3 separate regions of the Homo sapiens genome follow, and all the other regions are linked to region 1. Evidence: fine-mapped expression QTL. A gene starts in region 1. Each other region holds a variant in brackets. All regions are shown on one strand. Distances are between the middles of the regions. Region 1 holds the start of KIDINS220 (kinase D interacting substrate 220). Region 2 overlaps KIDINS220 (kinase D interacting substrate 220). Region 3 overlaps KIDINS220 (kinase D interacting substrate 220).

What was found. PIP is the estimated chance that this variant, and not a neighbour inherited with it, causes the effect.
Region 2: its variant is the best candidate, but not a certain one, in a credible set for the expression of KIDINS220 in pancreas (GTEx, PIP 0.64).
Region 3: its variant is the best candidate, but not a certain one, in a credible set for the expression of KIDINS220 in whole blood (TOPMed, PIP 0.65).

The regions. Positions count from the first base shown.
Region 1 is chr2:8,834,452-8,839,679 of GRCh38, reverse strand. It overlaps KIDINS220 (kinase D interacting substrate 220), which reads left to right and starts at 2,067. Exons shown (of 30, transcript NM_020738.4): 1 at 2,067-2,200. RefSeq lists silencers at 1,891-1,940, 1,951-2,010.
Region 2 is chr2:8,765,347-8,770,574 of GRCh38, reverse strand. All of the region lies in intron 22 of KIDINS220 (kinase D interacting substrate 220), which reads left to right. Among named protein-coding and RNA genes, the nearest start is that of KIDINS220, 70 kb to the left of the region's middle. The variant T/C (reference allele first, on the strand shown) is at 3,063.
Region 3 is chr2:8,749,970-8,755,197 of GRCh38, reverse strand. KIDINS220 (kinase D interacting substrate 220) reads left to right here. Exons shown (of 30, transcript NM_020738.4): 23 at 3,554-3,732; 24 at 4,863-5,086. Among named protein-coding and RNA genes, the nearest start is that of ID2, 71 kb to the right of the region's middle. The variant C/T (reference allele first, on the strand shown) is at 3,168.

The sequences.
Region 1 (5,228 bases):
GAGGAAGCAGTGAGAGGATAAGAGGAGGATGGAGGGGATTGAGGGAAACAGCTGGAGGCTGAGGAAAGATGGGGTTGGGGGGTGGTGGGAAGGGTAGTGGATGCTGGGGGAGGCAGCCTTCTATTTCCATAGGACAAATTTGATACTCTTCTAATCCCTTCAGTGGCCTTCTATTTCCCTAGAACAAATTCCCAAATGGTACTTAACACTCAAGGCCCTTCAGAGGCTGACCCCTGCTCCATCTACTGCCCCCTCCCATGCTGCCACCCCAGCCCCAAGGCTGGCAAATATTGACAGTTCCTGGAACTTTGGGCCACCCTCCTTCTCATCTCTATTCTTTTCCAAAGTGTTGTTCCCCGACCTGGACATTCTTCCTAGCCCCATCCAACTGATGTGATGGACAAACTATACTTCAGATACAGCTGGAGGTGCGGGGGGGGGGGGTCCCTTCTTTTGTGAACCTTCCTAGTGGACCCCAAGCAGAGTTGGTAACTCCATCCTCTGTGCTTACCTCCTTACTGCACTGTGCCTAGGACATGGTCAGGACTCAGAAAGGCTGTGCTAAATAACGCACATTTAACCTGTTTCCTTGTCTTCTCCCCTACTCTAAGGTTGGCTTCATCCTTATATCCTACTGATATGGTTTGGCTCTGTGACCCCACCCAAATCTCATCTCGAATTGTATTCCCCATAATCCCCACGTGTCAAGGGAGGGACTTGGTCGGGGGTGATTGGATCACGTCAGCGGTTTCCCCCGTGCTGTTCTCGTGATAGTGAGTGAATTCTCACGAGATCTGTTGGATGTAAAAGGGGCTTTTGACCCTTTTGCTGGGCACCTCTCTTCCTGCAGCCATGTGACGAAGGACGTGTTTGCTTCCCTTTCCGCCATGATTTTAAGTTTCCTGAGGCTTCTCCAGCCATGCAGAACTGTGAGTCAATTAAACCTCTTTTCTTTATAAATTACCCTGTCTCAGGTGGTTCTTTATAGCAGTGTGAAAACGGGCTAATACACCTACCATACTTCTAACCCCCAACGCCTGACCCACCCTGCCCTGTTTACAACAGTGGCTGGCCTTAGCAAGTCATTATCGAAGAAATCACACCATTTAGGACTCCACTGTACACGTTGGGGTGTTCGCTCCTTGTTTCATGAGGGGCACACCAACTTCCGTTTTTGTTTGTTTGTTTGTTTGTTTGGAGATAGGATCTTGCCCTGTTGCCCTGGCTGAAGTGCAGTGGTGTGATCTCAGCTCACTGCAGCCTCGAACTCCTGGGCTCAAGTGATCCTCTCACCTCTGTCTCCTAAGTGGCTGGGACTACAGGTGTGCAACACCACGCCTGGCTAAGTTTTGTATTTTTGTATTTTTTTTTTTTTTTTTTTTTTTTGTAGAGAAGAGGTCTCTCCATGTTGCCCAGGCTGGTTTCAAACTCCTGAGCTCAAGTGATCCTCCGTCTTGGCCTCCCAAAATGCTGGGATTACAGGAGTGAGCCATTGTCCCCACCCCGCACCAACTTCTGATGAAGTCAGGCTCCTTATTGGCTTTTTCCTGAGTTGCCAGGTTGACACATTGGTGGGTGCTTTTCGATGGTTCGCAACCTACGCACGTCGTAATCATCCTTGGACCTTTTCAAAAATCAAGATTGACGCTTGTTGGCAGCAAGGCCTAGGAATGTGGAGGCTGAAGGAGGTGAGGGGAGGTGCTGGGAGACCTGGAAGGAGTGTGAACTACAGGCCCCGCGAAAGGCAGAGGTCTCGCTCCTGGATCCGGAAGAAGGCTGCTGAGCGGGCTTTCATTTCTTATGTATGTGCAGTTTCTTCTGAAGATATAATTGATGTTTATTTCTCTGAATAAGCTTGATTATAATGGAAAATAGGGATAATAAATTAACTGTAATAAGAGTGACATTGACACTGAAAAACCTTGCCTGGGGCGCTTGTCCTGGGTGTCCCCGCCCCGCGGCCCCTCCAGCCCCGCCTGCTCTACGCCCCGCCCCGCCCCTCCCCTCCACGCCCAGGGGGCGTGGCAACCCGGAGTCCCTCCCCTACCCAGGGCACGTGATCTGTCAGTTCGCGGAGAGGGAAGAATATGGCCGCCGGGTGTGGTGAGGGCGACGCGCTTGCAGTCGCCGTCTCTTGCTTCCCCGTCCTCTGACATCGCCTGCAGCCGAGCGGGCCCGTTCCGCCGGAGCTGAGGACCAGGTTGGGAGACCGTCAGTGTGGAGGCCGGTCCGCGAAGCTTTGCCGCGGGATTGGGGAGGAGTCGGGGGCGAGGCCGGGCTCGGGGAGTCGGGCGGGGAGGTGGGACAGCCGAGGAGTGCGCGGAAGGGGCGAGCTCGGACCGGGGGTCCCGGGGAGGGCATGGCGCGGGCCCCGGACGCTCGGGCCCCGGCTTTCGGGGCGAGTCCGCGTTTCCTGGAGCGCCGGGAAGGTCTCCGACCTTGGAGTCTCTGGTGGTCTGTCTCCTGAGGGGCCCCTCGGGTGGGTTGGGGTGAAGGGTGTTGGTAAAACCGTTTTTTTTCTTTTGCCAAGCAGCCTCTGGCACATCCACCACCTTGAGAGCCCCCTTAGCTGGTACCGCTAGTCTTTCTAGGTTCCTCCTCCTAGGCTTCCACGGGCCGGGAGGTGTTGTTTTCTCCCTTGCTTTTATCGTGGGCTCCATTGCTCCATTGTCCTGTGCAGGCTTTTAAACGCCTGGCAAAATAGTGCAAGCCATTGATTTCCACGCCTCCAAGATTTATTTATAGGGAAATAATTTCTTCATCACTTTGTAATGTTGGAATTTTTATTCTTTCAAGTTGACAGGTTTAAACCGATGAAAAATTTTTTTATGAATAACTATGCAGCCATCTCTGCTCCCTATGGGCGCTTGTTAAAAATGTAGATTTCTTAGCGTTTTAGAGATTCCCATTCCTTCGGCCTGAGGTGTGGCTCGGGAATCACCCCTTCAGGTTCGTTCCTGTCCACATTTTGACAACACTGAGGACCAGACATCTACACCTTTTTAAACCACCGTGGGGTATTGAGTGCAGAGCCCAGGTTGGGAAATGCCGTGGCCAGGTGTGTTCTTTGTTCTCTTCTAGCTTTACTAGCATGGACTACTTTCATCAGAATCATTTTGGGGTGCTTGTTAAAATGTCAGTTTCTGGGCACCACCCCAGATCTAGGGAATGGGATTCTCCCGGGGAGGAGCTCAAGGGATATGTGTATTTGACAAGCTTCCCAAATAATTTTGGTGCACACAAGTTTGAGAATCCTTGTTCTACACCCTTTGTGTGAATAATTTCCAGATCATTCACACACAGTGTGAACGGTATCTTTTTCCAAGTATTGGGTGGGTTTCTCCAACCTAGTTCTTTTGGGACACTTCAAATTCAGCCTGGCCAAAGCCCCATTCGCCCAGCTGGGGTGGTGGAAGGGAGGAGGCATAACTTAAGTAGAGAAAAGTCTGCTCTTTCTCCTGCTTTTTTTTTTTTGGTTAAGGGCAGCTCCATTCTTCAGTCACCTATGCTGGGCATCTGGTCATCTTCCACCTGTTTTCTTTTCCAACCAGTCACATAGTTTTATCTTTATATCCAGAATATCTCTTCTGGATATTTTGGTAGTTCAGAAAGTTCAAATGTCAGGGATTTTATATTTTTCAAGTTAATATCCCTCATTTCTTCTCTATTCCCACTGCCTCTCTTGTGTACTGTCTGGTGATTCCTTGACTGGTATCTAGGGCCCTGATTCTTTGTATTTTTCCAGTCTGGGTCACATACACTGCCAGATTAATTTTTATAGGATCATGTATGAATGTGCCATCCCCTTCTTCCTGCTTTTGCTCAAGAACGGTCAGTTTCTCCATTTTATGTGCTACTGTATTTGTCAGGGCTGTTTAGAAGACAGTAGAAACTTAAACCTTTTACTTCAAGGAAAAGGAGATAATAGGATTGAATGAGAGTCAGAAAGAAGTCAGGATCCCAGGTACCTCCATTTTCTACATCTCCCTGGGGCAACTTTTTTTTTTTTTTTTTTTTTTTGAGACAGGGTCTGGCTCTGTTGCCCAGGCTGGAGTGCAGGTGGTGTGATCTTGGCTCACTGCAGCCCTGACCTCCTCTTAGGGGCCACATTTGTTCTCTTACTTAGGAGGAGTCTCTTTTCTGTTCATATCTGTTGTATTCTCTCTTTGCTGATTGGCTGTCTCAGAACTGTATCATTTTATGTGTGACCCATATTGATTGGCCCAGTCTCTGGTTTCTAATTCCCAGTTCTAGAGAGAGAAGTCTGATTGGCCCAGCTTATCTTTTTCAACAGTTTCATGCCACAGATCATATGCCCATCCCTGGGAATGGCTGATGCTAGAGAACATGGCTGTTGAGGGTAGCAGGGGCTGTGGGTGGGCAAAGTCCTTCAGAAGAGGTATCTTTAGCATACCTATGCAGTTATTTAATTTGATGGTTATCTATTAAGTTTCTACCTGTTCTAGATCTGTAATAGGTTCTGGGGATGTAAGAATGAAGGAGAGAGACAGCCCTTAATAAATTAGTTCAAGGCTGGGCATGCAGGCTCACACCTGTAATCTCAGTGCTTTGGGAGGCTAAGGCAGGAGGATCACTTCAGGCTAGGAGTTCAAGAGCAGCCTCGGCAATATAGCAAGTCCTGTCTCTACAAAAATTAAAAATGTAAACAATGATCTGGGTGTGTTGGCATGCACCTGTAGTCCCAGCTATTCAGGGAGGGTGAGGCAGGAGGATCGCTTGAGTCCAGGAGTTTGAGTCTGCAGTGAGCTATGAATGTGCCACTGCACTCCATCCTGGGCAATAGAGCCAGACCCTGTCTCAATAAAAATAAATAACTAAATACATACATACATACATACATATACATACATAAGTTAGTTTATAGGTGACCCGCGAGGGGGGTTTTGAAGGGTGTGTTTTGGCTTGTTAAGAATGTTAAAGTTGGGTCAGGCATTACAGGTGGTTGGATCAGCTTGGGCATGTCCATTCATTCTACCGATACTGGGTTCTGTGGTGTACCAGGCACTTCTCTTAAGTGCTGGAGATTCAGCAGTAAACAAAACAGATAGTCTTTATTCTCATTGAGCTACATTTGTTTGGCTAGGGGAAGCAGACCAAAAACAAAGTATGTGGTATGTGGAGTGATGCTAGGTGTTATAAAGAAGACCTTTAAAGTAGGGCTGTGGAAGGGGGATATAGTAGAGGGGGAGAGGGCTGTTTTATACACG
Region 2 (5,228 bases), 69 kb after region 1:
TATAAAATGTATACTCCTGGATTTAATCATTCTTATTAATTCCATTATAATTTTGGAGTTGTATTAGCACAGGTATATATCCTGTCATGTAAAATCTATGACTTTATTTGGACAAACTTTTCCTTTTTCAGGTATATAAAGTTTATTTAAAATTTTAAAAAATTTTTTAGAAACAGGATCTCTCTCTGTCACCCGGGTTGGAGCACAGTGGCACAATCATAGCTCACTGTAGCCTCAAACTCCTGGACTCAAGTCATCCTCCCATCTCAGCCTCCCAAGTAGCTAGGACTGTAGGCGTGCACCAGGACTCCTGGCTCTTTCTTTTTATTTTTTTGTAGAGGCGGGGACTTGCAGTGTTGCCCAGGCTGGTCTTAAACTCCTGGGCTCAAGCATTTCTCCTGTCTTGGCCTCCCAAAGTGCTGGGATTACAGGCGTGAAACACTGTGCCCAGCCTTAGTGTATAGTTTATATACACTTCTAAGATTTCAGATAACTTTTATTTCCTTAGAGTATTGTCAGTATATGGTTTTCCTATTTTTCTAGTTCCTATTTTTTATGTACACATTTAATGTTTTCTAAGTAAATAACTGGTTTTAGAATTATAGATGTTGTTGTATTAGTCCACAGATTTGAGCTCTTCTAGGTTTTGCTGTTTAATTTATATGAAAGTAGTTTAGTGGTTTAAACCTGTGTGCTGTATCAAGTAGGTGTTCCAGTAGATGCAGTGATGTATAATTACTGTCTGCCTATTGAGAAGTGGTACTGAATTGCATCTGGTCTTTGAGGTTTTACAAATCATCTTATTGTGAGATGCATGATTCGTTTTTCTCTTGGTTCTGTAGTACAATATTTTATTGTACATACAAGGTTTTATTTCGTGAATAAACGTTTGTATTATAATACAAGTGCTGTATAATTATGAACGTTTGCTAAGCGGTTAAAACTTAAGTTTTAAAAATATTTAAGTGCCTCGTAATAATTCATACCAATATAATGAGGTTTATTTTTCGCATGTTATATTTATACATAAAGCCCTATTTAATGTAAACAGGTAATCCCTTGACACTCTCATCTATCCTCAAGATTGTTGTTGTTATCATTTGTGTGTAAATAAAAATGTGTCATAAAAAAGAATAAGCCTTCGTTTAGGAACTGTGGAGTGATGTCTTAAGAAACAGTAGTGGAAGGAATTTGTGGCTGCTTTAGATTCTTAGACCCTGTCTGAATTGGTTTAGGAGTAGTATATTACTCCAGGAATGTATTTCTAGATTTCAAGAAATTTGTAAACTTGGGCACAGGAGAACTAGTTATCTCACATGGGTCCTTGCTTAAGGAGGTCGAGTCACTTAGTGTTACTGACCTCCTTCCTTCACGTCAGGTACTTTGCTAGGTGCCTTATGTATTCTTGCACTTTGGAAAGTGCAGAGGTGTTAGGTGGGGATAGAATGAGGGATGTGAACTTTGCTTTGCCATTAAACCAACTCATTACTTTAAACTTCGGCATTTGGCAGGCTTGCCATCTATGACTGGGCTGGATTTGGGGTGATTTTGAGATGCTTTTCTTCTCTTCCTGGTGAAATAGGTATATTTAAGTCTTAAATGCCTGCAACTACTTACAAAGAATATTTCGTAGCTAGTCTAAGGAAGAGAAAAAATATAGTAAGCAATCATTGATAATTCGTATGAATTGACTTAAAATAATTATATATAATAAGGATTTGGAATGAAAAACTATAGGAAGACACTTTGATTAACATATTGGAAAGCCAGATATTAAAGTATGTGAGAATAATCTAGATGATTATGTTTCTAGTTAACTGTAGTTGAGTTCTTTGATGCTATTGCTTGTCATTTGAATAAGAGAAAGTTTTATTTACAGCCGACAAAAAGCAGCAGTATGTAATTGATATTCATTTGTTGTACTAAAGAAATATGATTTGGTAAAAACAATCAGAAAATAGTATTTTTAACGCTAGTAGTAAAATTTATTTTTTTAATGCATAAAAAGCCTCGTTTATTTTTATAGCAATTTGATGACACATCTGCTGGCTTTATTCAGGTGAAAAAGAAAATGTTGGTTCTTGGTGTTTGGTGAAATTGTTAAATTATTTTCTAAATTGTTCAACTTTTAACAAATGACATTTGATACTAACACTGGAAAGCAATTTCAGCGAATTAAATAGACCCCTCTGTAAACCACGGGAACATTAAGATGACACACTGTTCATTCAAGATGGTTTTAATTGGTACAATTATTGTAATTTTCTTGCAATTATGTGTTGAGTTGAAAGCTTTTGTCTGGATCATTTGAGAGTTTTTTTTTTTTTTAACATACATTTAGTAAGAAAGGGAGTAAAATAAAAACTAAAAATTTTTTGTCTAGTTTTTATTGCAGCATTTTAGACAACCATTGAAATATTTTAATCTAAAACTTTATTTCTGGCATTTAAAGCAGAATGATAGTGGTTTTTAAAAAAATGAATTTAAGTAGTTTTCATGAAGATAGTGCTTTAAATTTCTGTTTTGACACTGCTCAGTCAATCTTTTACCCAGGCCATGATATGGTCAGAATAAGTTTGTGATAAGGATAACAACATTCTTTATTTTGGTACTTTATTTTGATGTTTAAAGAACAGTTGAATAAGTTCTAAGGGTGCTTCAGAATAGTAGCCATTTTCCATTTCATTGAAGTAGCAATTTGCTGTACAGACAATATGGACATCTAATTTATGACTTTAATAGACCTGTTATTTTTAAATTATTCAAGTAATGTTATTTCTATACATTATTTAGGACATTCTCATAATAAAACATCATATTTTATGATAACCTCTCCTGATATTCACCCAAAGCTTTCATAAGCTTCATTTTATCACATGTAGTCATCTCATACCTCTTGTAGCTCTCACTAACCTGCTTGCTCTCTCCATCATTTTCTGGGTGATGATCAGCTCTCCTTCCCTCTCTTCCCCGCCATCATTTGGCCTGGATTATTGCACAAGCTTGTTTCTTTTGCATGTGGACTTAAGTTATGAATGTGGATAGCATGAAAAATTTAACAT[T/C]AGTTAGTTTAGAGGAAGTTGTTGCTTCACCTCCTTTGTAGTACAAAGTCCATCCTTTGTACTGATAATTTTTCTCTTTAGTTTTTGAGATACTAGCAATATTTATTCCAAAAACTGTTTAATGCATGCTATTTTGGTGTTTTTTATATATAGCTTAGAATCTTCATGAAATTCTTTGTTTTTGATATATGACTTATTTGTAGGTATTGGTGTTGTCATCATTCAAAATTTATTAAATTACTATCTTTTATATAATTATTGTTTCCATCTTTATTCTCAAAACACACTTGCTTTGACCGCAGAGGTTCAATATTTTATCCATATCTTTATCTTTTTAAAGATAAAGCCTGATCTAGTTATTTGTAAAATTACAAGATAATTCCCCATATAGGAGAGGAAACTAAGCAGGTTTTTACTGAAATAAAGATTGTGTCATCTATAATAGAAATCATGTTTTATCTGGACAGAAATAAATGACATTTGTATATTTGCCAAGTTCAGTGTGAAGAGTGAGCCTGCAAACCTTGTATAAATATAGCCATAATCAGATGTAATGTTGACCATTCAATGTGCATTTCTGGCTTTGCATTATTTTTATCCATGTCTTTGTGAAAATTGGACAATTGAGATTTCTAAAGATAAAGGTGAAGGGCATAATTTTTTAGCTTATTTTGATGTATCTTTAAATCATGCCTACTTTTGTTGTGTGGAGAAAACAATGAAATGCATTAAACTGACGTGTTTGGCTTTTTTTTAGTTTACCTATTTGTGTATTTTGCTACTTATTTATTTTGTTGTTGTTACTAGATTTCCAGCAACATCCAAAGATGTGAGAGAAATTAAGGGGAGAAAGCTTAAAATTCATTCATTTATTCAGAAAACAGTTATTGGACACCTATTATGGACCAGGCACAGTTCTGAGAGCTTGGGTGTATCCATGAACAAAACCAGCAAAGATCCCTGCCCCGAGGAGCTTGCAGTCTGTCAGAGAGTGATGGGTAATAAACAACATATATAATACATAATTAGCATGTTAAAGGCAGCAAGTGTGGTGGAAAGAATAAAAGGTAGAAGAGAGTTAAGGAGATGAAGAGTAGTGCAGGTTCTGCATTAAGTAAGGGGATCAGGATTGTCCTCATGGAGAAGGGAAGAGTTGAGGAAGGGTTGAAGGAGGCAAGACAGTTTTCCAGGCAGGTATCTGAGAAAGCATTTCCAGGCAGAGGGAACAGTTCCGGGCCAGAGAGCACCTGGAATCAATGTTGAAGGAACAGCAACAAGGGAGCTGATGTGGTGAGATGGGGTGCAGTGAAGCAAGTGAGTAGGAGGTCAGGTCGGGTCACCAGTGGGGTTCATGGACCCCTTTTGGAGGACCATGGTAAGGACTTTGGCTTTTACCCTGAGTAAGATGGGGATTCGTTGCAGGGTCTTGAAAAATGTGTGGCCATTACCCTGATGCTTCAGGGCCTATTTGCTGTATCAGTGCAGCTTGGCCTGAGTTAGGGAAGCCTGTTGATTCAAGGGAGCTTGTTTTGAGACTCTCACGGTGGGAAGGGAATAGGAATGAACCTGGGTGGAAAAATTAAGGTAAATGAAAAGTTCAGAAAGTAATTGGCTATCCCACAGTAAAGATGAAATGATTAATAGAGTCGGGCATGGTGGAGTACGCCTGTAATCCCAGCTACTCGGGAGGCTGAGGTAGGAGGATCACTTGAGCCTGGGAGTTGGAGGCTGCAGCGTGCCATGACTGTGCCTGTGAATAGCTACCACACTCCAGCCTGGGTGACTAGTGAAACCTTGTCTTTTAAAGATAATAAAAGTTGGGTTATAGAAATAGCACATTGTGGCATTTTCTATGTGAGCTAGGAAGTAAATAACCTCACCTACAGTCCTGTTGCAGGGTATTGAAAGAAAATTAGTTATTCTAAACATCTGCAAGAATTTATAAGACTAATTTCCCTTTGTGTCTCCCCTGTCGCAATACTTTCTTGTTTCTTAGGATCGTTTTATTCTTTATTTTTTAATGATGGATTTATAGCCAACTTTTTGTATCATTTAAAAAACTGCCTTCCTTCCTGTTTCTTGCCATGGTCTGGCTCTCTGATATACAAACCCCTGGTTGAGAGTGAATGAAAGGTGATTTTTGTGGCATTGAAGACTGCTAGGTGT
Region 3 (5,228 bases), 84 kb after region 1:
GTGTAGCCAGCTCCTGAGGTATCCAGGGCTTTTGCCTTTTCACAGATGGCAGTGGGTGTATAAATGGACTCCATTTTTTCTTTGTTTCTGACTTTTTGGCTGCAATGCCAAGTGGCTGTTTTCTGTCTGTGTGTTCTGTCTGTCTCCCAGAATCTCCAAAGTGTTCTGTTCATGGATGGTATTTAATAAATGGACATTCACTGGTAGAAAGTATTTGAGAGTCTATTAGAAGTTAAATTTGTTTCAAGGCAATAAAATTCTAAGGCATTTAAGAGTTTTCTCTGTTTAAATTTTTAAACAAATTGTGTCTTATTTTTTAACATCCTACTAAATAATGACATTATTAGGCAGCTACTTTTAGATAAAATGTGATAAATAATACTTTCTTCATAAATTCTGCTCTAAGAATCTGTTTATATTTTGATTTAAAATAGAAATCTTTTATGTAATTTAAAACCTCATTTTGAATGGAAGTGATATGAATAGTTTATGCAATTTCTGCCAAGGAATTAATATGGACTTTGTATAAACCACTGTCATTTATAATCAAAATGCTTTTAACTTACATTGATGTTGGCATTAACAAGTATTGCTAGATTGGTAGCATAGAAGGAAATTGCATTTAGACTTACTAGGAGCTCATTGATGCCTGAGGTTTTATAATGCTTTCTTTGGGCCATTTAACTGCTGGCAACTTTAATTCACATGATTCATAATGCTGGAAATTCAAATTCACTCTTAACTGAAAAGTGAAGTTACTTAAATTCTTTAAATGCTAACCTTTGGAAAAATATCTGAAAAATAAAGGCACATATGATTTTGATGGCCCACTGCCAAAAGATTATCATTTACATAAATATCTCTTTCAGCAGAAGAGTTTAATGTATTGAGCTCAGAAGGTTAGAATAGAGACTTCAATCTGGAAGCCAGCAGTAGCCTGTTGGCTTGTGAACAGCAGCATTGTTCATCATACTGAGAACACTGTTGCATTCAGGCAGAAGCAGAGCTGGCATTAAAATGCAGTTAATTTGTTTCATGTGACTTGTCAGCTGTGTGTTTTTATCTAAATCTTTCTAGCTTCTCTTTTTAGTATTTTGTGTTCAACTCCTGCAATAGATGAACTACCTATTTAACTGTTTAAGCTCTGATTTTATCACCACTTGCAACCATTCTCCAGGTTTTCCATTTCATTTTAAATATATTTAATAATCAGTTTGAACACGATTTTAATGTATTAAAAGTAACCCCATCTCAGAGGGCTTTTCTGTCTTGTGCATGTGTCTGTGTCTGTAAAACGGACTTTCTGAAGTTAATTAAGAGAAAATTGCTACCCTTATTTTCTCCCCAGCACCCTATTCTCTTCTTGTTTGCTAATTGTGTTCTCTGGGTTTTTCCCTTAGATGACTTTCAATATTTGGCTACTAGCCAAGTATTGGGTCTGAGCAGTAAAGTGCTAGTCCCAAAGAAATGATATAACTGTTACTAACATTAGAATAAGGTTCCCATTTCACTTTTTGAAGGGCGTGAAAATCTTACTGCTCCTCTGCAACTGTGCTCACTTAGTATAATCTAACAGTTAATATTCTTGTTTAATTGGAAGGATATATCCAGTGATTTTTAAACAACTTTTGGAGGTGTAATTGACATACAATAAACTGCCATATTTAAATTGACCAATCTCACGAGTTTGATAAATGTATATACCCACAAAGTCATTACCACAATCAAGAGAGTAAATGTTTCCATCAGTTCTAAAATTTTCCACGTCTTCCTTTGATACCCTCCCTTGTCTCCCTCCTGCCTCACATTCCTAACTTCACAGCAAACCTTGCTCTGCATTGATACTTTAGATTGGTTTGCATTTTCTAGTTTTATACAAATGAAAACATATTGCTATACACTCTTTATTGGTTGGATTAATTTATTGAGAGATTCATCCATGTTCTTTGTATCAGTAGTTCATTTTTTTTTTGGCTGAGTAGTATTCCGTTGTGTGGATATACCACTATTTATTTATCCTTCCATCTGTTAGTGGACATTTGATTTGTTTCTAGTTTTCTCATCTACCTCTTGTCTTTTAACTTCTCTTTCTTTTTCTTTCCTTTATCCCTCGGTGATGCGTTCTTGCTTACTGCCTTAGATCAGGAATTGTCAACATTTGACCATTTTTGACCTACAAAAACTACAGTTTCATACAGTAGTGTTTAATAAGTGTTTTTAATTGAATATTACTTATTTTTACATTCAAGAGTCTCTGCATGATACAGAATTGTTTACATATTGCTTGAACTCAGTTATACAAAACATTCTGCATAATAAAAGACTAAGTGACATATTATATTAGGAGGTATTGTGTCTGATTGGTTAAAGTATGTTTTTTCCTGTCTGTTTTTCTATCTTACGTATATACATATATAGTAAGCATATATTACTTTTACAATAGGAAACAAAACCCTTTTTAAAAAAGGAAAAACTTAGCTTTTTTTTAATCTGTGTAATTTATTTATAAGTTCTTGATTTCTTGTTTTCTTTGCAAAGGAGAAACTGTGGTATTCTATTTAAAACATGGGTTTCAGAACCAGTCAGATTTGCTTTCGTAGTTGTGTGACTTTGGGCCATCTGTTTAATTTGTCTGAGGCCACTGTCCTCATCTGTAAAGCAATAACTCAATGAATCTTCATTGAGGGGTGACCCTTAGCCAGCTTAGGTGACCCCGAGCATATGACACACCTGTGCATGTGCGTCTTTCCTTCTGTTTTCCCACCCAAGTCCTGCCATGGCCAAAGGCAGTAGAATTCTGGCCGTACTCATTGTTACCTTTTTTTGTAACCATACTACTTTTTTGAGTTTCTTTCTCTTTTATTAAAAAAAAAAATTTTTAGACTGGATGAGGTGGCTCATGCCTGTAATCCCAATAGGGAGGCCAAGGTGAATGGAATGCTTGAGCCCAGGTGTTCAAGAGCCTCCTGGGCAACATGGCGAAATCTCGTCTGTATAGAAAAATACAAAAATTAGCCAGGCATGGTGGCATGAGCCTGTAGTCTTAGCTACCCTGGAGGCTGAGGTGGGAGGAAAGCTTGAGTTGGGAGGCAGAGGTTGCAATGAGCCAAGACTGCACCACTGCACTCCAGCCTGGGTGGCAGAACAAGATTCTGTCTCAAAAAAAA[C/T]CCTAAAAATTAAAAATAGATTTTTTGGCTGGGCATGATGGCTCACACCTGTAATCCCAGCACTTTGGGAGACTGAGGTGGGTGGATCAACTTAGATCAGGAGTTCGAGACCAGCCTGGCCAACATGGTGAAACCCCGTCTCTACTAATAATACAAAAATTAGCTGGGCATGGTAGTGCACACCTGTAACCTCAGCCACTAGGTAGGCTGAGGCAGGAGAATCGCTTGAACCTGGAGGCAGAGGTTGCAGTGAGCCGATGTGTAATTAGACCAAATCCATCAGACCAAGATGTGTAATTGTTGTATAAGTAACTTCAGGTGACATGCAGAATTTACCTTTCTAATAGTGACATTAATAACCTTTTTCATTGATTTCTTATTTGAAGAATATCAAAGAATATTCCAACAACTAAGGATGTTGAGCCACTTCTTGAAATTGATGGAGATATAAGAAATTTTGAAGTGTTTTTGTCTTCAAGGACCCCAGTTCTTGTGGCTCGAGATGTAAAAGTCTTTTTGCCATGCACTGTAAACCTAGATCCCAAACTACGGGAAATTATTGCAGGTGGGTATTAGTAGTAAATTTAATTTTTCATCTAAAGTTCTAAGAATTTTTCATGTTTCTAACTTATTTGTGTACATTTCTCCTGCTCTATGAAAAACCAAGAGGTATTGAACTAAGCACTACACAGAAAAATTCATGAAATTAAAGATTAGGAGTCTTGGCATCCTTTTGAGAATGTTAAGAAAAACAAAAACAAAAAAAAAAAAAAAGAAAATCCTGTTAGTATTTGTGGATCTCACTTTATTATGATCCCTGTCCCCACCCCTCCCGCCCCCACCCAAGTCCTTCCTTTGGAACTTTGGAATTGGATTTCTTTTAACATACAGTCATGACTTCATGATATCCATTCATTGTAATTTGCTTGTCACCAGTCTTTGGTTCTTAACAGGGATCTCTATCCAGAGAAGTAAGAAAATCTTTATATTACTTTTCAGATATTAACTTAAATCTGGGGACTAGAGCTTCAGGGTAGTGACATTAAGGCTTTGGAATAAATGAAGTTCTGGAGGTACCACTCTGTGCACGTGCACACACATAAAACCTTCATTGAAACAGTCTTTTGTATGACATGGCTCTGCTGACCTGCCTTTGAGTTTTCCAGGAACTGTGAGGAGATCGCCTTAAACTACTTCTGTATTCTATTTTCTAGGTACCTGTTACAAGGCTGATGTCAAAGGGTATTACATGGCTGTGGAATTTGTTGTTGTTCAGAGGTGGATGAGTCTCATAATTTGCAAACCCACAGTCTTTGCTAACATTATATGTGTTAATACCCAACAAATATGAGTTATTAATACTTGATAACGTTATGAATAAAAGTAATTGTTAGAATATCTTAAATCCTTTAAGAGTTAGAGAAGAGTCAATTGTTCCAATAACTGAAGAGAAGAATCCAGATATTGGTGACTTCGAATGGTGAAAATGCTTTTTTGCAAAGTAGCTGGGCATTTCTCACTAAAAGGCCTGTGAGTTTTCAAGATTTTCTGTCTTCTTTTTTAATCTAGTTGGAATCCGTGGCAAGAGTGATAAAGTCATGTTTCTGCCTAGTAACTAAAGAAGAATGTGATAATTGGACTGATTCCTAATGTCCTGTTTTCTCTTGCCTTCTGGGGTCTGATTGAATCTTTCAGATGTTCGTGCTGCCAGAGAGCAGATCAGTATTGGAGGACTGGCGTACCCCCCGCTCCCTCTACATGAGGGTCCTCCTAGGGCGCCATCAGGGTACAGCCAGCCCCCATCCGTGTGCTCTTCCACGTCCTTCAATGGGCCCTTCGCAGGTGGAGTGGTGTCACCACAGCCTCACAGCAGCTATTACAGCGGCATGACGGGCCCTCAGCATCCCTTCTACAACAGGGTAAGGAAGTTGGAGGCAGCTTTATTTTTAAGAATTTGTTACAGGGAAACCTCAGTTTTCTGCTTGTGGATTCTGTTTTGGTTTTAAAGCTGTACTTTGGCTTTAGCATAGGAAAAATGTAAAGTTTGAATGTAAAATATAG